Linked DNA regions of Homo sapiens. The protein of the gene in region 1 purifies or fractionates together with the protein of each later gene. This does not show direct contact. Each region holds a gene or a part of one and is shown in the gene's direction. Other genes may lie near its edges. The genes, in order: MYRF, PRMT2, PCDHGA5, OSTM1, ACKR3, TMEM98 and ZDHHC11.

Evidence for each region.
Region 2: the proteins of MYRF (region 1) and PRMT2 purify together in Homo sapiens (co-immunoprecipitation; one large-scale study listed by IntAct). This does not show direct contact.
Region 3: the proteins of MYRF (region 1) and PCDHGA5 purify together in Homo sapiens (co-immunoprecipitation; one large-scale study listed by IntAct). This does not show direct contact.
Region 4: the proteins of MYRF (region 1) and OSTM1 purify together in Homo sapiens (co-immunoprecipitation; one large-scale study listed by IntAct). This does not show direct contact.
Region 5: the proteins of MYRF (region 1) and ACKR3 purify together in Homo sapiens (co-immunoprecipitation; one large-scale study listed by IntAct). This does not show direct contact.
Region 6: the proteins of MYRF (region 1) and TMEM98 purify together in Homo sapiens (co-immunoprecipitation; one large-scale study listed by IntAct). This does not show direct contact.
Region 7: the proteins of MYRF (region 1) and ZDHHC11 purify together in Homo sapiens (co-immunoprecipitation; one large-scale study listed by IntAct). This does not show direct contact.

What each region holds. Positions count from the first base shown.
Region 1 is NC_000011.10:61,751,170-61,755,435, forward strand, and holds the start of MYRF (myelin regulatory factor isoform 2 precursor), read left to right. Parts: upstream 1-1,466; 5' UTR 1,467-1,575; coding exon 1,576-1,621; intron 1,622-1,699; exon of another isoform or gene 1,700-2,190; intron 2,191-2,859; exon of another isoform or gene 2,860-3,276; intron 3,277-4,208; exon of another isoform or gene 4,209-4,254; coding exon of another isoform or gene 4,255-4,266.
Region 2 is NC_000021.9:46,662,649-46,665,624, forward strand, and holds the end of PRMT2 (protein arginine N-methyltransferase 2), read left to right. Parts: intron 1-734; coding exon 735-906; intron 907-1,646; coding exon 1,647-1,679; coding exon of another isoform or gene 1,680-1,726; 3' UTR 1,727-2,476; downstream 2,477-2,976. UniProt on the Homo sapiens protein: Arginine methyltransferase that methylates the guanidino nitrogens of arginyl residues in proteins such as STAT3, FBL, histone H4. Acts as a coactivator (with NCOA2) of the androgen receptor (AR)-mediated transactivation.
Region 3 is NC_000005.10:141,367,162-141,370,661, forward strand, and holds part of PCDHGA5 (protocadherin gamma-A5 isoform 1 precursor), read left to right. Parts: exon of another isoform or gene 1-622; intron 623-3,080; exon of another isoform or gene 3,081-3,233; coding exon of another isoform or gene 3,234-3,500. Other genes in the region: PCDHGB3 (protocadherin gamma-B3 isoform 1 precursor), read left to right, coding at 3,234-3,500. UniProt on the Homo sapiens protein: Potential calcium-dependent cell-adhesion protein. May be involved in the establishment and maintenance of specific neuronal connections in the brain.
Region 4 is NC_000006.12:108,050,742-108,054,241, reverse strand, and holds part of OSTM1 (osteopetrosis-associated transmembrane protein 1 precursor), read left to right. Parts: intron 1-3,043; coding exon 3,044-3,211; intron 3,212-3,500. UniProt on the Homo sapiens protein: Required for osteoclast and melanocyte maturation and function.
Region 5 is NC_000002.12:236,579,825-236,582,854, forward strand, and holds the end of ACKR3 (atypical chemokine receptor 3), read left to right. Parts: intron 1-615; 5' UTR 616-641; coding exon 642-1,730; 3' UTR 1,731-2,530; downstream 2,531-3,030. UniProt on the Homo sapiens protein: Atypical chemokine receptor that controls chemokine levels and localization via high-affinity chemokine binding that is uncoupled from classic ligand-driven signal transduction cascades, resulting instead in chemokine sequestration, degradation, or transcytosis.
Region 6 is NC_000017.11:32,926,832-32,930,952, forward strand, and holds the start of TMEM98 (transmembrane protein 98), read left to right. Parts: upstream 1-1,321; 5' UTR 1,322-1,406; intron 1,407-4,068; exon of another isoform or gene 4,069-4,121. UniProt on the Homo sapiens protein: Functions as a negative regulator of MYRF in oligodendrocyte differentiation and myelination. Interacts with the C-terminal of MYRF inhibiting MYRF self-cleavage and N-fragment nuclear translocation.
Region 7 is NC_000005.10:844,487-847,986, reverse strand, and holds part of ZDHHC11 (palmitoyltransferase ZDHHC11), read left to right. Parts: intron 1-206; coding exon of another isoform or gene 207-371; coding exon 372-473; intron 474-3,500. UniProt on the Homo sapiens protein: Endoplasmic reticulum-localized palmitoyltransferase that could catalyze the addition of palmitate onto various protein substrates and be involved in a variety of cellular processes.

The sequences.
Region 1 (4,266 bases):
ATTCAGTGAGCAATGGAGAGAGGGGAAGAGCTGAGGCCAGTGGTAGAGGCGGGGCCTGAGAAACCAGAGCAAGACATTCAGATATTGTTTTGAGTGCAAAGGGAAACTTAGTTTTGCAAAGGAATGACATGATCGGATGTATGTTTCAGAAAGGGTGATTTGGGAGAACTGAAGGGGATATCAGTGAGACGAGAGGCTGTGCAAGTTGGGCAGGACAGAGATGTGGAGGCAGTCAGTCATAAGGGTGAAGGCAGGGGCACAAGGACAACCGCTTTATCCTGGACTTATATCGAGTTAGAACCTCCAGGTTTCATTATACCAGACAGGGCCACGGCAAAGGAGAGTTCGGATTCCCGGGGCAGCCAGGATTTGGCTCTGAACTTTAATGACCTTGAAACTCTTAGGCAGGGCGGGGAGCGGTGGCTCATGCCTGTAATCCCAGCAGTTTGGGAGGCCAACGTGGGCTGATCACCTAAGGTCAGGAGTTCGAGACCAGCCTGGCCAACATGAGGAAACCCCGTCTCTACTAAAAATACAAGTTAGCCCAGCGTGGTGGCGCCTGTAATCCCAGTTACTGGGGAGGCTGAGGCAGGAGAATCGCTTGAACCGAGGAGGCAGATGTTGCAGTGAGCTGAGATCGCGCCATTGCACTCCAGCCTGGGCGACAGAGCCGAACTCCATCTCAAAAAAAAAAGGAGCTTTTAGACCTGCATTGTCCAATACCACAGCCACACGTAACTGTTTAATTACAATTAAACAAAATGAAAAAATCAGTTCCTCAGTCTCAATAGGCACATTTCCAGTGCTCACTTGTGGCCAGTGACTACCATACTGAACAACACAGGGAACATTTCCATCATCACAGCCACAGGACAGGGCTTCCTGGCAGTCCTTAATGCATTGAGCCTCAGTTTCCCCATCTGTAAAATGCAGGTAACAACAGCATCTCCTTGATAAGGTGCCTGTGAGGAGTACATGAGATAATGCCTGTGTGGCCTGGCACATAACACACGTTCCCTAAATGCAGGTTGTTATTGTTGCTGAGCGGGGTGTGTGGGTGGCTAACGAGAGGGATGGGGGCTGTCTCTGAGGTTTGGATTCGGAATCGTGACATCTTGTCCCGTGCAAGACGAAGGCGAGGACGGCGAGGGCACACCCTTCCAGTCCCGACCCCACAGAGGCCAAGCGGCCCTTCGCCCCCACCCCGACCCGGGAAGGCCCCGCGCCCCTCAAGCCTGGGACGGTCTCGCGTCCCCCGACCCGGGACGGCCCCGCGCCCCGCAAGCCTAGGACTGCCCAGCGCTGAGCGCCGCCTGCAGGAGTCGGGAGCGTGGTGCCCGCGGCCGGGCTGGGCGCGGCGCGGGCCGGCAGGGGGCGCTGGGCGCGGCGGGCGGGGCGCGTGGGGCGGGCAGGGGCCGGGCCAGGGACGCGCGGGGGGCAAGCGCGGCGGCGGACCGGGCGGGACCGTAGCCGGAGCCCAGCCGGGACTGTCGCGCGGGCCGCGCCGGCGATGCCGCGCCCCCGGGCCGGGCTGTAGCGGGGCCGCGGCTGGAGTGTGCGCCGGGCAGGCGGGACATGGAGGTGGTGGACGAGACGGAGGCGCTGCAGCGCTTCTTCGAAGGTGAGAGACCGCGGGCTGGCGGCGGCGACCCTCTGGCGCTGGGAACCCCCGGCTGATCTCCCCGGGAACTGGGGCTCCTCGCTGTGTTTCCGCCTCCTCTGGCTGGGACCCTCCTTCAGGCTGGCACCAGCCCGCCAAGACAGGCTCCCGGGGCTGGGAGTCCCCCAGCGGTTACCACCCACCGCCGCTGAAGTTGGGCTCCCCCTCCCCGCTCCTCAACTCGCAGCTTCCTTGGGACTGTGTCCCCTTCCAGGTCCGGACTCCTTTGAGCCTTCCAGGACCCGGAACTTTCCCTAAATTGTGACACTCTCGCCCCCAGCAAACTTCCCGAGTCTGGGGACCCTCTACTTTGCTTCCCCAGAACCCCAAGCGGGATACAACCCCATTCAAGGCCCAGACCCCCGGTGTGCCTTCTAGGACCTTCCGTACCTCTTGAGGCTGGACCCCAGCCTGCTTCCCAGAATCTGTGACCCCCGCCTAGAGACCAAGACCCCCTGTGTGCCCTTCTGGTTGGCGCCATCCCCCATGACTTCTAGGAGCTGGGACCTCCCCACTGTGCTTCCATGAGGGTAGGACCACTTTCGAGCCTGGATCCCCTTGGAGACTGCCACCTGCTTTCCACAATGCTGCCTAGTGACTGCTCTCCTGTTTGGGGCTGGGACCCCCCTCCCTAGCATGCTCTCCTGGGGCTGGAACCTTCTTGAAGCTGACATCCCTGCCACCGGTCACCTCTGCTCTCTGAGACCCTTCTAGTGCTGTGAACTGCATCCCACCAGCCCTCTGAGGCTCCTCAGCACTATGTCCCCCCAACCCTGGAGCTGTGCCTCTCTGACCTCGCCCCCTCAAAGAGTGACCTCACCCCCACTTGACCGAAAGGAGCCCTCTGGGGTGGAATTGACATACACCCCATAATATCTTCTTCTGCCCCCACCCCTACATTGGTTTTGGAGGTCTGCTCCTCCATCTAACCAACTCCCTGTCTTTTCCTGGACGACCCCTGCCCCTCCTGCAGGGCCACCACTCCTCCTGGTGCTGGGTTCTGGAGGGATGGGACCGCAGTGGGAGGGGGAGGGGAAGTTCTGGCTGACTGCCTCCCAGCCCACTCCGCTTCTCAGAACCTCCCTGGAACATCTAGCCAGACCCTCTGGCCCCCTTTTGTGCCCCTGTCTACCAATGCAGCGAGCCCAGCCCCTGCCCCGAGCTCCCTCTAGTCCCTAAGGCCACATCCTGCTCCTTGGTGCATTGAGAACCTTCCCTTCATGTGTGAACCTATCAGGGCTACAGGGCAGGGAACCAAGGCCCAAGTTTCAAGCCCCAGATTCCTGTGGAGTCCTGTGGAGGAGAGAAGCAGGTCTTCCGGTGCCTCAGTTTCTCTCCCTCTGTGACTTGGGAGGCAGGAACCCTTGTTCACACCTGCTGGCTGAGCAGCCCAGGCAGGGGCACCCCTAAGCCTCAGTCATCCCACTCCAGGATTCTGGACACCCCACAGACCCAGAACCCAAGAGTTCAGGCTTGGACTAGATTGAATGGTTGACTCTGCATCAGGTGGGCCATCTGAGGGTCTTAGGCAGCCCTGCATCTGTCCCGGGGCTCTGGCTCTCCCCAGACACTGTTGATCCATAGGAGCTCTCGAGGGGCCTGACGCGGTTTGAGACCTTCAGGGAAGAGGGGACCAGACATTCGTGCTTGCTTGGGTTACTGTCTGGAGTGCCTTGAGCCTGCTAGGTACCCAGAGGACCCGCAGGCCAGGCTCCCTTGACCTCCACACTGCCTGCCCCAGGACGCTGGGCCCTGACAGAGAGCAGAGGGGTGGGCCTGGCTGGCCTGGACTCCCTGGCTCCCTCCTGACCATGGGTTGGGGGGTGGGGGCTGACGCCACGGCTTAGCCATGCAGCGGCCTGGCGGGGGGAGGCTGCGCTACTCCCTCCAGAGAGATAAGAGGAGACTCAAGAATGTCTGTGGGGAGCAGGGGAGGGGTGTGAGGCTGCCCGTCTAGGAGGGCTGGGCTGGAAACAGCTCCCAGCCCCTGCGATGGGGGAAGGTGTGGGTGGCCCCTGAGGCCTAGGGTCTCCAGGCCACTTGGGAGGGGAAGGCCCATGTGGGGGACCCACTGTAGGTGTGAGAGAAGGCCTGGGAGTGGCAGGGCCTGGTGTGCTTGTGAGTGTGTGAAGTGCGAGGGAGCGGGAAGTTGTGCTTTTGAGCCGTGGCTGCGTCACTCTTGAGTGCTGTCACACTCGGGGCTGGGGCTGGGGACACCTGAGCTCTCATCCTGGTCCCCACTTGGCCTTGGTCATCCCTCTGGACAGTGGGTAGCAGTCCCTGTGCTCTCGGCTCTGGGCTGGGAGACTGGGAAAGGGTTTTACCGAAGGGGCTGCAGCACAGCGCGCCCCCTCACCTGACGTGGTCCCCCTCCCTGGGCACACACCAAGCATAGGTGCTGGGTCCTGCCCTGTGCCGGTGGTGGGCTGGGGGCTAAGGCGCTTTGGACCTCAGGTGGGAGGCCGGGACAGAGCGGCCCCCTCGAGGCTGGTACAGCCGGGCCCCCGTGACCGCCCGGCTAATCCCCTAGAGAGAGGCAAGGCAGCCCAGATCGGCGGGCACAGGGCCTGCAGAGAGGGGACCCACCGGGCAGGATGCACTGGCTT
Region 2 (2,976 bases), on another chromosome or scaffold:
GGGGTGAGGGGTGTGACCAGAGTCAGGGAAAAACTGGAGACCTGAGGAGCCCCCCACTTCACTGCTGGCCCCACCGTGGACAGTGGGAGTTTGAGGGAAGACAGAGCCTGAGGAACTTAGAGATGTTTCCAACGCAACCCAGTGCAGAATCATAGCGTTTTACTATTTCCCCCCAAATGTGACAGTTGTCCTCACCTTGTAACCTTCACAGAAGCGACTCCTTGGACCTGATTCTGTCTGTGTACACCACAGTTTAACAGCAGGAGCTAGATCACCAGCCTCTGCAGCTTAGGCAAGGGTGCAGGAAGGGGTTGCACAGCCGTCCTCCTGGCGGGCCGGGGAGTCGACACCACACGGGACCTTTAGTGCAGCTGTGTGTCCCCTGAGCTCCCGCATCCTCTGGGCCACCCAGGGTGAGCCGTCCACACCTCCTGGAATCTGAGTGGTCTCAGGAGCAAGCTTGTGTTTGGCATTGGCAGGATCTGTCTCACTAGCGTAACTTTGATCCCAGTGTATCCCATAGAGTCCCTTTAGATCACAGGGCTGGGGGTGTATATGTTCCCTGAGTTAGCCTGAAAAGCCAAGCTTTGTGTCCCCAGGCCCTCAGGGTGGACTGCCGGCTGTGTGGGTGCTGTTGGGGGCGAGAGCCAGTGCGAGCCTGAGTCAGCGCCCCGAGGGCCATGTGGAGACTGCCCTAGCTCAGCCTCCAGGTCACACGCACCCCTGTCTTGCAGCACCACACACTGGAAGCAGACGCTGTTCATGATGGACGACCCAGTCCCTGTCCATACAGGAGACGTGGTCACGGGTTCAGTTGTGTTGCAGAGAAACCCAGTGTGGAGAAGGCACATGTCTGTGGCTCTGAGCTGGGCTGTCACTTCCAGACAAGACCCCACATCTCAAAAAGTAAGATACGTAGTTGTAAGATTCTGTCCTGTGGGTGCCGGTCCTCAGGGAGACAGGCCTGGGTGGTGGTAGTGATGGCAGATGCTGGCCCACACTGGGGTCCACGCCTTTTGTGCAGGAGTGATTTAATCCTTACACAGAAAGCGCCTGTTGTCATTGGCTTCATTTCCCATCTGACAGCACGGGAAGTGGAGGGCTCTGGAAGGGAAGTCAGGGAAGTCATTCCCTCAGGTGACACGGTAAGTGAGGGAGAGCAGAGACCCACATCAGCCTGAGGCCCCTTGTGCCATGTCCAGAGGGTCCCCCAGATGGACAGAAGCCTGAGCTGTGCCTTGGCGCTCCCTTTACACAGGCCTCTGTGGCTTCCCAGGCAGCAGTTAGTCTAGGCGTGTCGTCTGTGATGCGTGTTCTGACTGGCAGCCTTCGGATCCGTGTGTGAATTCATGTGTAGCTCGCCCAGCTCACTTGGGCTTCCTGTCTCAGAGGCTGCTGAAAATGGAATGTTCTTCTTTGGGCTCAGGATTAATGTGGCAAAGAAAATAAAAATAAATGGTTTTCCTTCATTTTTTATATTTGTTTTGTGCTTTGCTTTGTGATAAGTTTTTGTTAAAAGTTTGTCATTTAAAAAAATTCTGCACCTGAATACTGTTCTCTTGTCCAATATTAAACCATTAGGAAATGTAGTATGTTAATCAAATGATTTATCATCTGATTGACCTGTTGTCATTTATCTTTTTCAGGTTGGAGAAAAAGTCTTCCCCATCTGGAGATGACAGTTGATGCTTTATTTGGAAAGCAGTGTGCATATCTTGAGGGGTGATGAACACAAGCAAACCAAGTTGCACCTGGCTTCTGCACACTCCTGCGAAAGTCGGTGAACATTCACTCCACATTGACCCCTCCCTAGCCTGGCAGGTGACGTCAGGGTCCTTCACAGACAAACACGCTTGGGCTCGGCAGGAGCTGCCGTGGCCACCCCCGCTGCCCAGTGTCTGCCCTCTAGAAGTAGGCTGTGTTTCCAGGTGTTCACCCGTGGTGCCCACAGTGCCGACCCGTGGCTGGGTCGGAGCTCCATGTTCCTAAGCTAGGTCTAGGTCTACACTCCTAGGACGCACGCATATCAGCCCGTGTACCCTGTGACAGTGACTGTCCCCACCTCCTATGTTAGTGGTGCCCTTACTGCCGTCGCTCATCCACTCGTGTGGGACGTAGGATTGCACAGGGCTGTGCCAGTGGCGTGTAGGGAACACTGCCCTGGCTCAGCGTGCGAGCTAAGGTGGTGATGTATGCGATGGGACTCTGCATGGGATAGTACAGTTGTGTAGACGTCTTCCAAATAAATTATGTGTTGGTCCATCGCACATGCTCAATAAATATTTTTAAATGAGTGAATGTCATTGTGTATCCTGTTTTATGCATATATGTTATTTTTTGTAATTACAGGATCATACTATATGCATTGCTTTATAAGTTTTTCTCAATATTGTGAAAAAACTTCCACATCAGTAGATACATGTCCATAATTTTTTTTTGTATTGTTTTGATTTTTATTAAATTTTATTGAAATATAGGCTGGGTGCAGTGGCTTACCTCTGTAATCCCAACACTTTGAGAGGCTGAGGTGGGATGATTCCTTGAGCTCAGGAGTTCAAGACCACCCTGGGCAACACAGCGAGATACTATCTCTACAAAAAAAATAGAAAAATTAGCTGGGCATGGTGGCGTGTGCCTGTAGTCCCAGCTACTCGGGAGGCTGAGGCGGGGGGATCACTTGAGCCCAGGAGGTTGAGGCTGCAGTGATCTAGGATTGCACTGCTGCACTCCAGCGTGGGTGACAGAGCAAGACCCTGTCTCAAAAACCCCAAAAAACAAAACTGAAATATCAAATATATATTGAAAACAGTGCTAGTCATGGGTACATAGATGATGGCATTTTATAAAGTGGACGCACATGTAACCAGCATCCAGGCCAGGACACACTACAGATTCCCCGATTCCCCTTCCACTCAGTGCCCACCCTCTCAAGGGTGATGTCCTGACTTGTAACTGTCGATTACTCTTGCCTGAATG
Region 3 (3,500 bases), on another chromosome or scaffold:
TCTACCTGAAATTTGTTTAAGGAAATAATTTACAGTATTTACATAAATCAGTGGAAAGGTACAGAGAACTTCTGGGTCATAAATATCAGAAAAGAGGCCGGGTGCGGTGGCTGACGCCTGTAATCCCAGCACTTTGGGAGGCTGAGGTGGGCGGATCACGAGGTCAGGAGATCGAGACCATCCTGGCTAACACGGTGAAACCCTGTTCTACTAAAAATACAAAAAATTAGCCGGGCGTGGTGGCAGGCGCCTGTAGTCCCAGCTACTCGGAAGGCTGAGGCAGGAGAATGGGGTGAACCCGGGAGGAGGAGCTTGCAGTAAGCCGAGATCGCGCCACTGCACTCCAGCCTGGGAGACAGAACGAGACTCCGTCTCAAAATAAATAAATAAATAAATAAATAAATAAATAAATATCAGAAAAGTAGATAAAATTTATATTAATGATAACATGTAGCATTCTAAAGTCTGGAAAGTTTGTGTTAAGCCATGTAGTTATTGGATATGTGGGCTTGTTGAGAGAAGAAATCAGTGTAAAGGAACCTTAAGGTTGGGCTTCGTTCTGTGATGTAAAGCCTCCAGAGAGTTACATACTGCTGCACTCAATAAATGTAAATATGTCACACACCTGGCATCTTCTGTTATAGATAAACCCTTTACTTATTAGAATCAATACCTACTGCAATGTTAGCGTTTCTTTAAGTGTAGGTGCAATTCTTCTTTATTACTTGAGTTTAAGGTTGTATTTGAAAAAAAAAGAACTCAACTTAAAGATGGTTCAAAATTTTAAATTTCATATCTAACGTATGTGCTCATCTTAAATTAATAGATTTGTCTTAATGAAATACTGGCCTATGTGCCTCAAATTCCAGGAGGATGTGTTATGTAATGAAAGAACTACTATATTTCCCTTCTGCATCTGATTTGCTGAAGATGATTTTCAGATGTTTCTTATTAAAATATTCTTAATCCTTCAAATTTTGTACTTTTAAAACCTTGAGCATCAGCTTCAAATAATGACTAAATAAGGGGAAAAGGTAATAAAATATTACAAATGGGATAGTAAGCTACATTACTCAACCACATGAAAGGTTAATTGACACATTAAAGAACCTAAGACCACTTGATTTTTATTTTTTAAACACTGTTAAAGAGCATTCAAGTATATCTATATCTATATACATATACACACACATATATATACACACATATATATACACACATACACACACACAAACACACATACATACACACATGGACATTCTGACCAAAATGTAAAATGTACAAACTCACCGAATAGTGAATGCATCCAAAGAGTAACAAGAGAATCTATACAGTAGGTGTCGACATTATTCACTCCTATGTGAAAACTTGCTTTTCCATTTTTTTTAAAAGAAAATGTTATATGCTTCTTAGGGTAAGGTGTTTGGGAAAAAAGTAAAGGTTATAGATTTGGGTACATTTCTTCTGAGTTAAATGTTTTGTGCAATGGAAAAATATCTTTAAACCCTCTATAAACTACTAACAGACTATAAAATGCTTGATCCATACATTTTGAATGTATGTACTGTATATACCATATACTTTTAAATATCTGAATCTTTAGTTTTATATGTGTTCTGAAGAATAATTTTTCATACTAATTGAAGTGTTCATACAATGAACACTTGGCATTGTGTTGGAAGGCACTTGCTTTGGAATGTTTTGGAGCAAAGTCTTGAGTCAGTTATATTTTTGATGTTTGTATAAAGGTGACAATGAGTGTCTGTCTAGAATTCTGGTTACTGTGAGTAGTTTAAGATGCTATAATGCTTTTCCACTATAAGGTGAATTCGGTGTGGAACTCATTGCTTATTGCTGCACACTTGCCTAGTTTTAGAGTAACAATACATTATGTAGGCTAAAGATAATTTCTTTAGGAAGATTTTCTGGTTTGAAAATGGAATTAAAACTGTAAGACACCTGTCAGAAACATGGAAAATGGCATGTTATTGACCAGGGAAAAGTGTAAATAACAAAAAGTTAGGATTATCAGATGGTAAACTGGGGACCAAGGAAAAGTGGACAGGAAGATTACTTATATAATTAAATAATATAATTATAAGGACTTACAATTCACTCCCCAATCCTAATAACGCATCATTGTTAGGCTACTTGAGAAGAAACAGTACATTTCAGGACAATTGTGATGTAGTATGAAAAAACATCCTTTGTAAAAGTTTTTCATTTGGGCCAGGGTGGTTCATGACTATAATCCCAGCAATTTGGGACGCTGAGGTGGGAGGATTGCTTAAAGCCAGGTGTTCTAGCCCAGCCTGGGCAACATAGTGAAACCCCACCTCTATAGAAAAAAAAAGTTTTCAATCATACTTATTTAATTAAAAGTAGACACTTGGAAACAAAGGAAAAGAGACCCTCTTGCTTTTTACTATACTTCTATTTTATAAGGTCAATCATTTCCTCATTACCTTTAACTTCTTTTGGGGGGAGATAATAAAGATAAAAGAGAAGAAAGTGAAACATAGAATAAAACTAAAAGCTATGACATTATAACTTTTAGAAGTTAGAAGTAAAGGAAATAGAATGCAATAAGAATACACGTGAAGCTGATATTTCAAGCCTCTTTATACTACGTCTTCTGCCATCACCAAAAATAGCTTCCATTTGTATGATTTTCTATGTATTATTTTATTTGGCCCTCATTTCTACTAGAGTAAGCAGAGAAGATATTATTATGACCATTTTATGAAAATGGAAACTAAAAACGTGACGGGATTGAGCAAGATTATCTCTGCCCTTTGACAAGTAAAAGGTACTTGATTTGGATGGATAAAGCTCAAATTAAAAGAAATAACAGACTAAAGATATAGTAAGTATATTTAATGTTTTTTAAAAGTCCTTTTAAAATGGGAAGAAAGTATCACTATCAGTACACTGCCGATTTTTCTCCTAACTAGCTCCTTATTTGGAGCTGATTTAGTCACCATTACTGCAGTTCTGCAGCAGAGGCGCCGGGTGCCGCTCTTGGCTAGTGCTGTGCAAAATATTGGCTCCTCCCGCTGCAGCCAGCTCGGAAGAAAAGTGCACTCTCTATCAGGCTTCCTGCAGCGGAGACACCCATTAGAGAACCCAAGCACAAAGACAAAGCAAATAGTTGGTCCTGCTCGGAGAACTCTTGGGATTATTTAAAGATCTCCTCTCCTCGGATTTAGAAAGGCAAAGGCGCAGAGAGCGGGATGGGAAATAGCTCCGGATGGAGGGGCCCAGCAGGGCAGAGGCGAATGCTATTTCTCTTCCTGCTCTCTTTGTTAGACCAGGCTCTCTCCGAACCGATCCGCTACGCTATTCCCGAGGAGCTGGACAGGGGCTCGCTGGTAGGGAACCTCGCCAAGGACCTGGGGTTTGGCGTGGGGGATTTACCTACTAGGAACCTGCGGGTTATTGCAGAGAAGAAATTCTTTACCGTGAGCCCCGAAAATGGGAACTTACTTGTGAGCGACCGT
Region 4 (3,500 bases), on another chromosome or scaffold:
GGTGAGATAATGATTGTGAAAACATTGATTGAGGTGTGTGATTGTTTAATTAAAACACAATGGTTTTCAATCTGACTTACGTAGGTATTTTGCAGTGTAGTATGATTCTGTCTATAGGAAGTTTATTCTTTGCCTGAAATTTGCTTAAGTATGTTTTACCTACCTTAAAAAGCACTGTTTAGTAAGATAACTTTGAGTATTGAATTATGATAATAAAAGGTAGCTTTAAGAATCTTAACCTTGTAGATTATTGCCATCTCTATCTCTGACTCTTGAATTTTGGTATTGGAACTTGCCCGGTCGTGGTGAAGGACGAGGTTGGAACTCTGGTTAAAATGTAGTTTTGAAACTTACATAACAAGTAAGTAATCCCCATAGTAGATGTACACATGCTTAGGGTATAAGCATGTATGATTTCTTCTGTAATAAATGTGGTAACACTGAATTATGAATTTCCTTGAGAATAATAAAAATTGGGCCAGGTGCAGTATCTCATGCCTATAATCCCAGCACCTTGGGAGGCCAAGGCAGGCAGGTCACTTGAGGTCAGGAGTTCGAGATCAACCTGGCCAATATGGTGAAACCCTGTCTCTACTAAAAATACAAAACTTAGCCAGGCTTGGTGGTGCACGCCTGTAGTGAAGTAGAGGTTGCAGTGAGTTGAGATCGTGCCATTGCACTCCAGCCTGGGCGTTGCAGAGAGACTCTGTCTCAAAAAAATAAAATAAAAAAAATTAGGTGAACATTTCTCAGAATTTGTTCTGCAGCATGTTAATAGATGTCCTATCAGAAAGGGTTTAGTATTCCATTAAGGTTGGGAAATGCTTTACTACAGGACTTCAGAGCCTTTAGTGGACTGATGTGTGTTGTAACACTCAAATAGCAATTTTTCTATAAAGTCATCCCTTTTATATATGGCTTCACTTTCCACAGTTTCAGTTACCTGTGGCCAACTGCAGTCCAAAAATATTAAATGGAAAATTCTGGAAATAATAAGTTTTAAATTGTACACCATAAACAGTCTTCTTTTCATTTAACTTAGAGTACTTGTATGAGTTTGGTAGATTTCTAGAAGTAGAATTACTATATTGGCAGCCTAAGAAAAAGACACTAGAGAAAATTATCTCCAAATATGATGAGTTTATTAGGGAATAAGAAAGAAGTATGGTAATTTGGAATGCACTGGCAAACCACCAGTACATCCAGTGAGGGAAGGGTAAAGGGAAGCTTTTATTAGCAAAAAGGGAGAGGTTCACACAAGCTGCTTGGAAACTGAGTTCATTGGTTCCTGAGGCTCAAAGCCAAGTTGTCAGTTCATTGGTGGCGATGCCATTACTGGGCAAGTGTTCTTTTGAGTGCATCTTATCTGAATTACTGCAGTCCTAAAGAATGGCAGTGATAAACCATGTGAAAGCAGGAGTTGCAATGAAGGGCGTGAAAGGATTTCTTGTGGGGTTTTTAGAAAGTCTTTGGAAACAAGGACTCTTTTTGTCTCTATTTTGTCTTGGTCTGTCAAAAGGTGATTTCATCCTAATGTCTGCAACTTTCACATTATTAAAAGATATGTGCATTTTAAATTTGAATAAAAATTGTGGCCAGGTATGGTGGCACCTGCCTGTAATCCCAGCACTTTGGAAGGTTGAGGTGGGAGGATCATTTGAGCCCAGGAGTTAGAAATTAGCCTGGGCAAAATAGCAAGACCGTGTCTCAAAAAAAAAAAAAAAAAAAAAGGTTAAATTACTCCCCATCTAGATTATGTGCACAATTTTAGTTAAATGGATTATGTGCTCAATTTTTTTTTTTTTTTTTGAGACGGAGTCTCGCTCTGTCACCCGGGCTAGAGTGCAGTGGCGCGATCTCGGCTCACTGCAAGCTCCGCCTCCCGGGTTCACGCCATTCTCCTGCCTCAGCCTCCCAAGTAGCTGGGACTACAGGTGCCCGCCACCACGCCCGGCTAAGTTTTGTATTTTTAGTAGAGATGGGGTTTCACCGTGTTAGCCAGGATGGTCTCGATCTCCTGACCTTGTGATCCGCCCACCTCGGCCTCCCAAAGTGCTGGGTTTACAGGTGTGAACCATCGCGCCCAGCCCTGTGCTCAATTTTTAACTAAGTGCACAATTGTTCTGTGAAAAACAAGCAATGGGCTATTTCTTGTAGCAGACTAAGGAGAGACTTAGTTTTTCTGTCAAGCAGATGGTGAGGGTAACATTGTTGGGCCAACATCAGTGTAATTACTTTGATTTTTCTCTTTTCTCTTTCATCCCAATGTTCAGTTAATATTCTTTCTTCATACTACAAAGTAAAGAATAAAGGGCATAGAAAGCAAAGGTGTGAACTGACTGTTTAGCAAACTTATTCTTGAAAAGACAAGTGTCAGTCTAGAAGTACAAAATATTGAGATTTAGTAGCATAATATTTTATGTACCTCCACTATCCTCATTTTAGGTTATACAATTCTTTGGTATTTGGCCCTTTTTGTTGACTAGAAAGGCCTGGATTATGAGCCTTGTGATAAGAGAGTTGAGTGGGGATGCAGTTTTGGTGCCTTTTCCCTTTCCATTTAAAAAGTTCTGTCTCAGTAAGATAAACTATGGTGTTCAAGTCAGCATAGGCAGGAACCTATTTTATTTATTCAGTGAGAGTAGGATAGATAAGTGAGGGTTTGTGATGATGAGATAATTTAGGAAATTTTGTATTTAGTTACTAGTCATTTGGCATATGAATTATTGTTATCCTCAGTTAACATTAGCTAATGCAGCAGTTTTGAAAATTTAGAGGCACCTAGAAAGTTCCAAACAGTTTGCCATCTGCTTCACATACCGGGTCTCTAATCCTTCGGACTTATAATACAGGTAGAGGTCGTTTTATTTTATAGATGATAAAACTGAGACTCAGAGTGATTTAGTAACCTACTCAACATCACAGCTTAGCACTTTAACACACCATATTGTTTCCCGTCTTCTAGAAGCGTAAATAGCTTACATTAAAGAGATATTGTATATAATGTTTATTGTATATATTACATGTGCCTTTGTCATTTTAGGGGAATGCACATAGTCTTTTACAGACAAAAAATTATTCAGAAGTATGCAAAAACTGCCGTGAAGCATACAAAACTCTGAGTAGTCTGTACAGTGAAATGCAAAAAATGAATGAACTTGAGAATAAGGCTGAACCTGGAACACATTTATGCATTGATGTGGAAGATGCAGTAAGTACTTTGCTTCTGATGTGATACATATTTTAGAGTGTTATTGAATGTACCTTCAGTATGATTATTATTTTTGGTGATAGGGTGGAATCTGCATATTCTGTCCTCAACCAAAAATAACTAGTTATAAAGTAGTAAAGTTTTAGAATATCCTGGTCTGTTAAACCAAAATGGATATTTCCTTAGTAGTCTCATGGTTAGGATAAAAATAAAACAGAAATTAATTAGGTACTTCATAAGTGAGTTGATGCTTTGGTACATTTTAATCTTTTTAAATTTGAAAATATGT
Region 5 (3,030 bases), on another chromosome or scaffold:
CCAGAGGCTTTATGACTGCACACTGGGGCCGCCTGAGACCCAGGTTTATATGTGAATTTAGCAGACAAGTAAAAAGTGCTGAGTCACATTATAAATGCAAATTTGGAGGAGGATTTGAAATGCTTTCATTAAGACACCAAAGCAGGACACTTGTAATACAGCAGTGCCAGGAGAGGACAACCCTGCCATTCTTTGGGGACCTAGATAAAATGGCTCCACTGTCCCCTGCTGAGAGTGAGCAGGCCATCAGCATCGCGGTGGCCGGGGCTCAGCTGCCTGACGTTTCTTTGGCCCCTGTACTGTGTTGATTTCACACACTGGGCACAGCCATGCTGGCGGTGTCTTGAGAACACAGCCATGAAAAGATGGAGAAAGCAAACACAGTTTCTGTCTTGGAGCACCACATGGATTTAGATTCAGAGTATGATTTATTTTGTTTTGGAGAGTTTTATTATGAATTTTTTTTCTCCCTTCTTTGCAAAGACATTACAGAGCTAAACCCAAACAGCTGAGCCTATCAGGGCCTTGGAAAAGCATTTTTGCCTGAAACTTGAGTTTTTCCTAATGAAGTGACTTTCCTCTTCCATCTTTTTTGTTTGCTTGGTTTTCTCATAGGTCATTTGATTGCCCGCCTCAGAACGATGGATCTGCATCTCTTCGACTACTCAGAGCCAGGGAACTTCTCGGACATCAGCTGGCCATGCAACAGCAGCGACTGCATCGTGGTGGACACGGTGATGTGTCCCAACATGCCCAACAAAAGCGTCCTGCTCTACACGCTCTCCTTCATTTACATTTTCATCTTCGTCATCGGCATGATTGCCAACTCCGTGGTGGTCTGGGTGAATATCCAGGCCAAGACCACAGGCTATGACACGCACTGCTACATCTTGAACCTGGCCATTGCCGACCTGTGGGTTGTCCTCACCATCCCAGTCTGGGTGGTCAGTCTCGTGCAGCACAACCAGTGGCCCATGGGCGAGCTCACGTGCAAAGTCACACACCTCATCTTCTCCATCAACCTCTTCGGCAGCATTTTCTTCCTCACGTGCATGAGCGTGGACCGCTACCTCTCCATCACCTACTTCACCAACACCCCCAGCAGCAGGAAGAAGATGGTACGCCGTGTCGTCTGCATCCTGGTGTGGCTGCTGGCCTTCTGCGTGTCTCTGCCTGACACCTACTACCTGAAGACCGTCACGTCTGCGTCCAACAATGAGACCTACTGCCGGTCCTTCTACCCCGAGCACAGCATCAAGGAGTGGCTGATCGGCATGGAGCTGGTCTCCGTTGTCTTGGGCTTTGCCGTTCCCTTCTCCATTATCGCTGTCTTCTACTTCCTGCTGGCCAGAGCCATCTCGGCGTCCAGTGACCAGGAGAAGCACAGCAGCCGGAAGATCATCTTCTCCTACGTGGTGGTCTTCCTTGTCTGCTGGCTGCCCTACCACGTGGCGGTGCTGCTGGACATCTTCTCCATCCTGCACTACATCCCTTTCACCTGCCGGCTGGAGCACGCCCTCTTCACGGCCCTGCATGTCACACAGTGCCTGTCGCTGGTGCACTGCTGCGTCAACCCTGTCCTCTACAGCTTCATCAATCGCAACTACAGGTACGAGCTGATGAAGGCCTTCATCTTCAAGTACTCGGCCAAAACAGGGCTCACCAAGCTCATCGATGCCTCCAGAGTCTCAGAGACGGAGTACTCTGCCTTGGAGCAGAGCACCAAATGATCTGCCCTGGAGAGGCTCTGGGACGGGTTTACTTGTTTTTGAACAGGGTGATGGGCCCTATGGTTTTCTAGAGCAAAGCAAAGTAGCTTCGGGTCTTGATGCTTGAGTAGAGTGAAGAGGGGAGCACGTGCCCCCTGCATCCATTCTCTCTTTCTCTTGATGACGCAGCTGTCATTTGGCTGTGCGTGCTGACAGTTTTGCAACAGGCAGAGCTGTGTCGCACAGCAGTGCTGTGCGTCAGAGCCAGCTGAGGACAGGCTTGCCTGGACTTCTGTAAGATAGGATTTTCTGTGTTTCCTGAATTTTTTATATGGTGATTTGTATTTAAATTTTAAGACTTTATTTTCTCACTATTGGTGTACCTTATAAATGTATTTGAAAGTTAAATATATTTTAAATATTGTTTGGGAGGCATAGTGCTGACATATATTCAGAGTGTTGTAGTTTTAAGGTTAGCGTGACTTCAGTTTTGACTAAGGATGACACTAATTGTTAGCTGTTTTGAAATTATATATATATAAATATATATAAATATATAAATATATGCCAGTCTTGGCTGAAATGTTTTATTTACCATAGTTTTATATCTGTGTGGTGTTTTGTACCGGCACGGGATATGGAACGAAAACTGCTTTGTAATGCAGTTTGTGACATTAATAGTATTGTAAAGTTACATTTTAAAATAAACAAAAAACTGTTCTGGACTGCAAATCTGCACACACAACGAACAGTTGCATTTCAGAGAGTTCTCTCAATTTGTAAGTTATTTTTTTTTAATAAAGATTTTTGTTTCCTAAAAATGCATCAAGTCTCAGTTTTCAAAGTGTGTTTTGGCACTTGAATAGCACACATGATAATAATTCATGGATATATATGGCACACACAGGCCACCTGCATGAACATGCTCAGAAAAAGAGTGCTGCTGTAAAGCAAAAGCTACCAGGTTAACTTGTTTGAAATGATATAAAAAGAAAAAATCATTTGAGCACACTGCATGGTTTTTAAAAAAATTTTCAGGCAATAGTGTTTTTGGTGTGGGGGATGATTGCTAGGGTCCAGCTAGGAGAGAAGGCTGGCACAGAGAAGGTGCCACTTGCTTCTACTTCCTGCTGGCCAGAGCCATCTCTGTTCTGAACCTGTCTGAACTCTCCGTCCAGACAGGAGAGTTTCAGGGTGCAGGACTGGTGTCCTCATCTGTACCACCTGTGTGCTTCCAGGGCCAGTGGCACAGCCCCTTAAATCTCATCTGCTAAGGTAAACACCTCCAGGGGCAATATTTCCTATTGAGAGTTTTCATTTA
Region 6 (4,121 bases), on another chromosome or scaffold:
GACGTGGTGGCGCACACCTGTAATCCCAGCTACTTGGGGGGCTGAGGCAGGAGAATCGCTTGAACCCAGGAGGCAGAGGTTGCAGTGAGCTGAGATCGTGCCATTGCACTCCAGCCTGGGCAACAGAGCCAGACTCTGTTTCAAAAAATAAATAAATAAATAAATAAATAAATAAATAAAGGCAAGAACCTGGACACCCTCCACCCGTAAACAGCCAAGACTGTGCCACAGCACTCCAGCCTGGGCGACTGACTGAGACTCTGTCTCAAAAAAATTAAAATAAAACAACAAAAGTATGAACCAAAAAAACCACCTCTGTGGGCTGGATGTGGCCTTGGGGGTACCAGTTTGCAGACCCTGTGTCAAGCGGCCTAGGACCCAATCTGTATCCTTTGTTAACTGTCACCGATACTGACCTCAGACCTGGACCACTGGGATCCTGCCCTGAACCCCGTGCTTTAGTTGGCCCACTCCAGCTGGAGCGTATGTTCCCTTCTAGATCATGCTCCTGGTACCCTGGACTCCGGAAATCCCTGTGTAAACAGCCCTGAGCCTGCTTCCAAGGTCTGACTTCCATCCACCCAGGGCAGCCTGCCCTGCCTGGCCTGAGTATCGTTAGAATGAAGGATGGCAGGGTAGGGGGTGTGTGTTTGCCTGAACCAGTAGACCCCCTTCAGTATGTATGGGATGGAGTCGTGTGGGAATAGAAGCAGCAAGACTACTAGCAAGGGCTCTGCATTTGTACTCTTGCCCCTGGCTAGGCAGTCGCCAGGGGTGGGCCTGCTTCTCACTGACCCGTGGGTCAGGCTGTAAATAAGAGCGACCCTCGATTCACTCTTTACCCTGGGCCAGGCAGTCCGATGCATCCTGCATCCCATCATTCCTAATACCAACTCTGAGGATGCTGACAAGCAGCAGCCCCGTTTTACAGACCGAGGCACAAAGGCTGAACTAAGTTGTCCATAGCTAGTGAGTGGCAGAGGCAGGGTTTCAATGGGACAGTCCGTGGCGGAGCACACTGGCTCCGCCGCCAGCCCCCCTGCGGTACCCATCCGCGCTCGCCGCCTGGGACCGCCAGCCCGGGGCGGGGCGCAGGCAGGGACCCTCCGCTCCCCTCTCCGTCTGCCGCCCGGACGGGCCACCGCGGGGGCGCGAGGAAGGGGTGTTGGGTCGCCAGGGCCCGCCTCCCAGCTGCCCCGGCCGCCGGGGGGCCTGGCGGTGACGGCGGCGCCTGGCGGCGGGGATTTGGCGCGGGCCGGGGGCCGGGGGCCGGGGCGCGGGGGCGCGAGGCTGGATTCCTAGGGCCGCGGCGCTTCCCGGCATGCTCCGCTGCAGGCCCGCGCCCGCGCCCGGACTTTGCCATCGGCGGGGCAGTCGCGGGATGCGCCCGGGAGCCACAGCCTGAGGTGGGTGAGCCCCGCCGGGCCGGGCGGGCCGCGGCGAGTCGGGGAAGGGGACGCGGGGGCGCGGGGCCTGGCCCGGCTGCCGGGGAGAGGGGAGGCGGGTGCCGCAGCTTTGTTCTTGCCGCGGGGCCGCGCGCCCGAAGTTGGGGAAAGGAGTAGGAGCCGCGCCCCGGAGCGCTCCGGGGCCCGTGCGGCGCGTCCCGGGCGGGCTGGGGGTCCCTCCCTCCCGGGGACAGAGTGGGCGTCCTGGGTGGACGAGCACGGGGAAGCGGGTAGGGTCTTGGGTCTGTTCTGTCCTTGTGGTTCTGGAACCGGAGGGGAAGGGGGAAAGTAAGGGAGAGAGAAAGAGACGGAGAAAAACAGGAAAACTTACTCTTCAGTACGCAGGGAAGAATAGAGAAAGAAAAACACAAAGAAACGCCACGCAGACTGCAGAGAAGGACCACGAACACACGCTCCGAGAAACACACTCAGCTCACACGCACTGAGAAGCACACTTAAGATAAACACTCAGGTCACACACACAAGCACACTAAGAAACATTCAGTTCACACACACTCAGAAACACACGCACTCAGAAGCACACAAGATAAACACTCAGCTCACACACAGAAGCACACTCAGAAACATTCAGTTCACACACACTCAGAAACACACGCACTCAGAGGCACACAAGATAAACACTCAGCTCACACACAGAAGCACACTCAAACATTCAGTTCACACACACTCAGAAACACACTCCGAGAAACAGTTCACACTCGCTCAGAAGCACACTCAGCTCACACACACAAGCACACTCGGAGAAACATTCAGCTCACACACACTCAGAAACATACTCTGAGAAACACAATCAGCTCACACCCACTCAAGCACACTCAAGATAAACAGCTCACACAAGCACATTCAGAAAACACTCAGAAACATAGCTAACACTCAGAAACACACTCTGAGAAACACAGCTCACACACTCAGAAGCACACTCTGAGAAACAGCTCACACACACAGAAACAGAAAAACAGCTCACGCACACTAACACAAACACACACGGAGAAACACACTTAGAAGCACACTCAGCTCACACACACCCAGAGAAACACGATCAGAGAAACACTCAGAACGCACAGGAAGAGAGAGGAAACCAAGTGGGTGGTCTTGGAGGCCTGGGGACCGGGGGAGGGGAAGGAGAGACACTGAGAAGCGGGAGACGGGAGCAGCAGAGGGAAAGATGCCTGGAAAGAGAAACAGAGATAAAGGCAGACATAAGAGGAGGCAGAAAACACAAAGGCCAAAAGGAGGTGGTTAAAAGGACAGTAAAGAGAAACACACACGTAGAGAAACAGAGGCGGACCCTGAGAATTACCCCCCTCCCCCACCTACCTCTCACAAAATCAGCGACACACACAGAAGAGGCAGATGCCAGCCTTCTCCTTCTTGTGGTCCAGTGAGCTCGAGATGGGAGAGCAGCTCTGTGAGCCCTTTGAGAAAGGCTTCCTTGGCACTTTAAGCCAGGCATGTCCCAACCTTGTCTACCTGGCAAACTCCTGCTCATCCTTCAAAACCCAGCTCTAGCCTCACCACTCCTGTGAAAGTGTCAGTTCCCAGAAAGTGTCATGCAAGCACAGTTACTCTCTTTTCTGTGTTCTTCTGCAGGAAGCACAGGCACATGGAGTTGAAGTGGTTTGTCACCTGTCTGCCTCTCCCACCAACTCCTTAAGATCAGGGTCTCTGTCCTATCTATCTCCAATCTCCAGTGCATGATGCATAGTAGATGATCAATAAATACTTAGTGAATGGTGACCGAGAGCGTTTGGACCCTCCGAGACATGGAGGATAGAATTAAGTGCAAATAGAGGAAAAGCACCCTCCTGGTATTCTAAGGACTCCTAAGTCAGAGTGTCTTTTTTTCACGTGGGGAAATTAAAGCCCAGAGAGGGGAGAATGCTTGCACAAAGAGAGACAAGCAGGAGGCCTACAATGAAATAACAGTGAATATGTACTTCTGTGAGATGCCCTTGTTCTTCTGGCTTATGAGTTTAAAATAGGTGTGAAAGACCCCGTTCTTCAGTTCCTCTCTCCAGAGGCAGCTACTGTTATCAAGTTACATTTTATGTGTGTTTGTGCCTATCGATGTGTTCATACTAAAAAAATTCTGTGCACTAGTATATACAAATGCACGGACTTCTTTCATTCTTCTTTTGTACACAAATAAAAGAATTCTATGAGAAAAAGAAATAGATGTGAAACAGTCTCCTGAGTGAAAACTGGCAAGAGGCAATGGACACTTTAATGCCAGTTCTAAGTTTCCAACACTGAAACTGGCAATTAGAACTCTTTCCAGAACCTTTACAGTCTTCTTTCTTCCTTAGAAAGGAAAAGTAGAGTGAATGTCCATCTCAGTGTAAGTGGATGGCTTTCCATCTCCTGACTGCATATTGGAAAAATTCTGTAACCTCCCTGAACCTCAGTTTCCTCAACTGTAAAATGGGATTACTAATATGTCCACTTCATAAGATTGTTGTTGGAAAAGTTAACAAAGAACCTGGTGCAGAGTAGATCCTCAGTAAATACAGTTTCATCTTTCCTCTCTTTAATGGGTGTTCTTTTGTGCATGTTTTTATGGCTGCGAAAACAACTGCTAGTTAAAATGTTTCCTTTTGTCTAGGGTTTAAAAAGCTATTTTAAGGCCGGGCTCGGTGTCTCACGCGTGTAATCCCA
Region 7 (3,500 bases), on another chromosome or scaffold:
CTGTAGGCACAGGTGGGATCCAAGCCCCCGGCCTCAACTCCTGGAACCATGGGGCAGGCGCGGCCTCCTCCAGGGCCATGGCCCAGAGTGAGGCTGGTGTAGGACGGCTGGCGGGGGGTCTATGCTCAGGGCGGCCAAAGACACAGCTCCTCCTGCTCTGTGGCTACCTCTGCCCACAGCTGCCCTGCTTCTCCTCCTCCCCACAGGCCTCAACACCCTCCCCCAGCCTCCCATTCCCTGCTGGACGCCCTCTCCCCAGGCCGCACAGGGCTGGTTCCTCCGAGGCACCTGGCTTCCAGTGATGGACCTCTGGCCCTGCCCCAACCTGCGCACTTGGGGCCTGACAGGCGTTCCCCGATTCATCCCTCCAGGAACAAGAAAACCAAACACTGCATTTCCTGCAATAAGTGTGTGTCCGGCTTCGACCACCACTGCAAATGGATCAACAACTGCGTGGGAAGCCGGAATTATTGGTGAGGGGCACAGAGGGGATGGCCGGCACGGGCCAGGCTTGGGGGAATTTGGAAGGGAGGGGTCTGTGGGCAGGGGTCATCGTGTTGAAAGGGTGGAGGGTCCTCTTGGGGCCGCGTCCCTGTCCTGATGTGGTGGCGCTTGGTGCCTGCGTGCCCCGGCCTCCTGTCTGGCTCTGGGGCTGTGGTGCAGCCGTCCCTGGACAAGCTCATCCGCATAGAGTAAGTCCCTGGAGGCCCCCCGGGGGCACTTGCGGGGCCACGCTGGCTGAGGCCTCCTGACCACGCTGTCCTGGGCTGGGCTGCCTTCTCTCCACCCAGGCTGAGGCTCATCCAGCACAAGGGTGGGGCCACGGAAGGGCAGTGGGCACCCAGCGCAGATGGGCGAGAGGTGTTTCCCCTGAGCATGGTCGAGGCTCACAGATGAGAGGTGTTTCCCTGAGCACGGTGGAGGCTCATAGACGAGAGGTGTTTCCCCTGAGCACGGTGGAGATGCAAGGAAGAGAGATGTTTCCCTGAGCACGGTGGAGGCTTACAGATGAGAGGTGTTTCCACTGAGCATGGTGGAGGCTCACAGGCGAGAGGTCTTTCCCCTGAGCACGGTGGAGGCGCAAGGATGAGAGGTGTTTCCACTGAGGATGGTGGAGGTGCAAGAACGAGAGGTGTTTCCCCTGAGCACGGTGGAGGCTCACAGATGAGACGTGTTTCCCCTGAGCACGGTGGAGGCTCATAGACGAGAGGTGTTTCCCCTGAGCACGGTGGAGGCTCAAGAACGAGAGGTGTTTCCCCTGAGCATGGTGGAGGCTCAAGGACGAGAGGTGTTTCCCCTGAGCATGGTGGAGGCTCACAGGCGAGAGGTATTTCCCCTGAGCACGGTGGAGGCGCAAGGATGAGAGGTGTTTCCACTGAGGATGGTGGAGGTGCAAGAACGAGAGGTGTTTCCCCTGAGCACGGTGGAGACTCACAGATGAGACGTGTTTCCCCTGAGCACGGTGGAGGCTCAAGAACGAGAGGTTGTTTCCCCTGAGCACGGTGGAGGCTCATAGATGAGAGGTGTTTCCCCTGAGCACAGTGGAGGATCCAGGGACTCTCAAGGCCCCGTGTGCTGAGCCCCGGCTGTCTGCAGCACTGTATTGTGAAGATCACCAGGGAAAAGAACCACGCCTGCTCCCCAGCTACTCTGTGCTGACCTGAAAGAGGCCTTGGTGTGCGTGGGAGTGGGGACCAACGTTGCCTGGTGTCACAGGACGCACCGGGCGGTCCCTGCCCTGCCTCCCTGCCATCCCGTCTGGAGCACAGCATGTGTCCAGAGAGGCTGAGCAGCCCGGCAGGGACAGAGAGGTTGCATGACCGCACAGCGAGTCCAGAGGCTGCGTGAGATGGTAGGGGCCGGGGAGACCCACCGGCCTCCTCCCCTGGAGAAGAGCAGCTCCACGATGGCCAAGGTGGGGCCAGCTCCTCTGGCTCATGCTAGCCCCAGGTGCCACTTCCTTCTGGACTCATTCTGCTCTGGTGCCTCGAGCTGGCTCAATCTGGCGGGTCCTGGTGGGGAAGGTGAGGGGGTGAGGGCCCACAGGCAGGTGGCAAGGAGAGGGTCTGCCTTCCTCAGGAGGGGTGCTGGAGAGGGACCACGTGGGTGCCAAGTGTAGACACCGCCTGGGTGTGGGAAAGGGGCATCAGGAGAGCAGGGCCGGGGTCATGGGCGCCCTCAGCTCCAGGCAGCAGCCAACGCCGGCATCTGTGCCAACCTCGCTTCTGTCCCTTCATCCGCCAGAGGCGGAGAGAGCAACGGCATTGAGAGCAAGATGAGGAAAGTTGAGGAGCTGATGGCAGAGCCCCCGCGAGGGAGGCCGAGCTGATGGCGGAGCCCCCATGGGGAGGCCCAGCTGATGGCAGAGCCCCTGTGAGGGAGGCTGCATACTTCGTAGTGATAAGAGAGGAAGGGGGACGGAAAGAAGGCAGGCGGCGCTGGTGTCCTGGGAAGACTGTGAGCGCTGGCCTCGGACTCTGCAGGTTAAACACAGGCAGCAGGGGCAGGAGGCTGTGCTAACCAAGAGGAGAATGTCCCTGGGTGGCTGCGGGGAGAGGAGGCCCCGCGTGAATGGCTCTGCCCCATCCTGTGGGCTTTTGTCTCTGTGGTCTTAGAGACCCGCCTTCTTTCCTGGATGAAGAGGGGAGTCCTGTCCAGACAGTAGGATGAAGATGAGGGGTCTTTACTCCCCACAAGTGGGCTCAAGCCCAGGAGGACTGGGGGCAGGGTAGGGCGTGTCCGCTGCCTGGAGGGGCTGCTGCTTGGGAAACCTAAGCTGTGAGAGGGAAGGCAGTATGAGGGAGCAGCAGTCAGGGAGCCGCTCATGCCTGGAGCCACCCGTCACCCCTGGATTATCCAGAAGACTCTTGGAGGGAGGAGGAGCGCGGGGAAGGCAGCTGTGCCCTAACTGCCTCTTCGGAGGACTGCGGCATTCATGCTCTGGCCTCCAGTTGAAAATAGAAAAAGGGATTTAAACAAGCTTAGGTGAACATAATACAATGGAAAGGATTAAAGGAGGTTAAAGGATACTTTTAAAAAAATATCATCATGGCAGAAAGACCAAGGGAAGATGGTTTAGTCAAAGTATGTTCCAGGAACTGCTGCCCAGAATTGGTTTTTGTGGATGGATTATTCTCTGCATCTTTTGAGCAAAGACGAGAGACTGGGAGTGGATTTGGTCTCACGTCTACAGCATGGACATCGCTTTTGGCTCAGATTTGCACGAGACCCTTGGAGAAGGGGGGACTGCAGCCGAGGTGTGGCCGGGCTCCTCCAGGGCCTCCTCAGCCCGAGTTCCCTTTGGGTGCAGAGATCCAGGTCCCTGAGCCTGCAGGCCCTCCTGGGTGCCACGGCACTCTCGTGGCTCTCCCCTTCCCTGGCTTCAGTGCCTTTGCCCAGCATGGTGCCATGGAGACCCCAGCACAGACCATGCTCAGGGCCCCCCGAGTGGACCGAGCCCGCGTGCTCCTTGGCTGGTAGGGAGGCCTGTCTGCATCAGG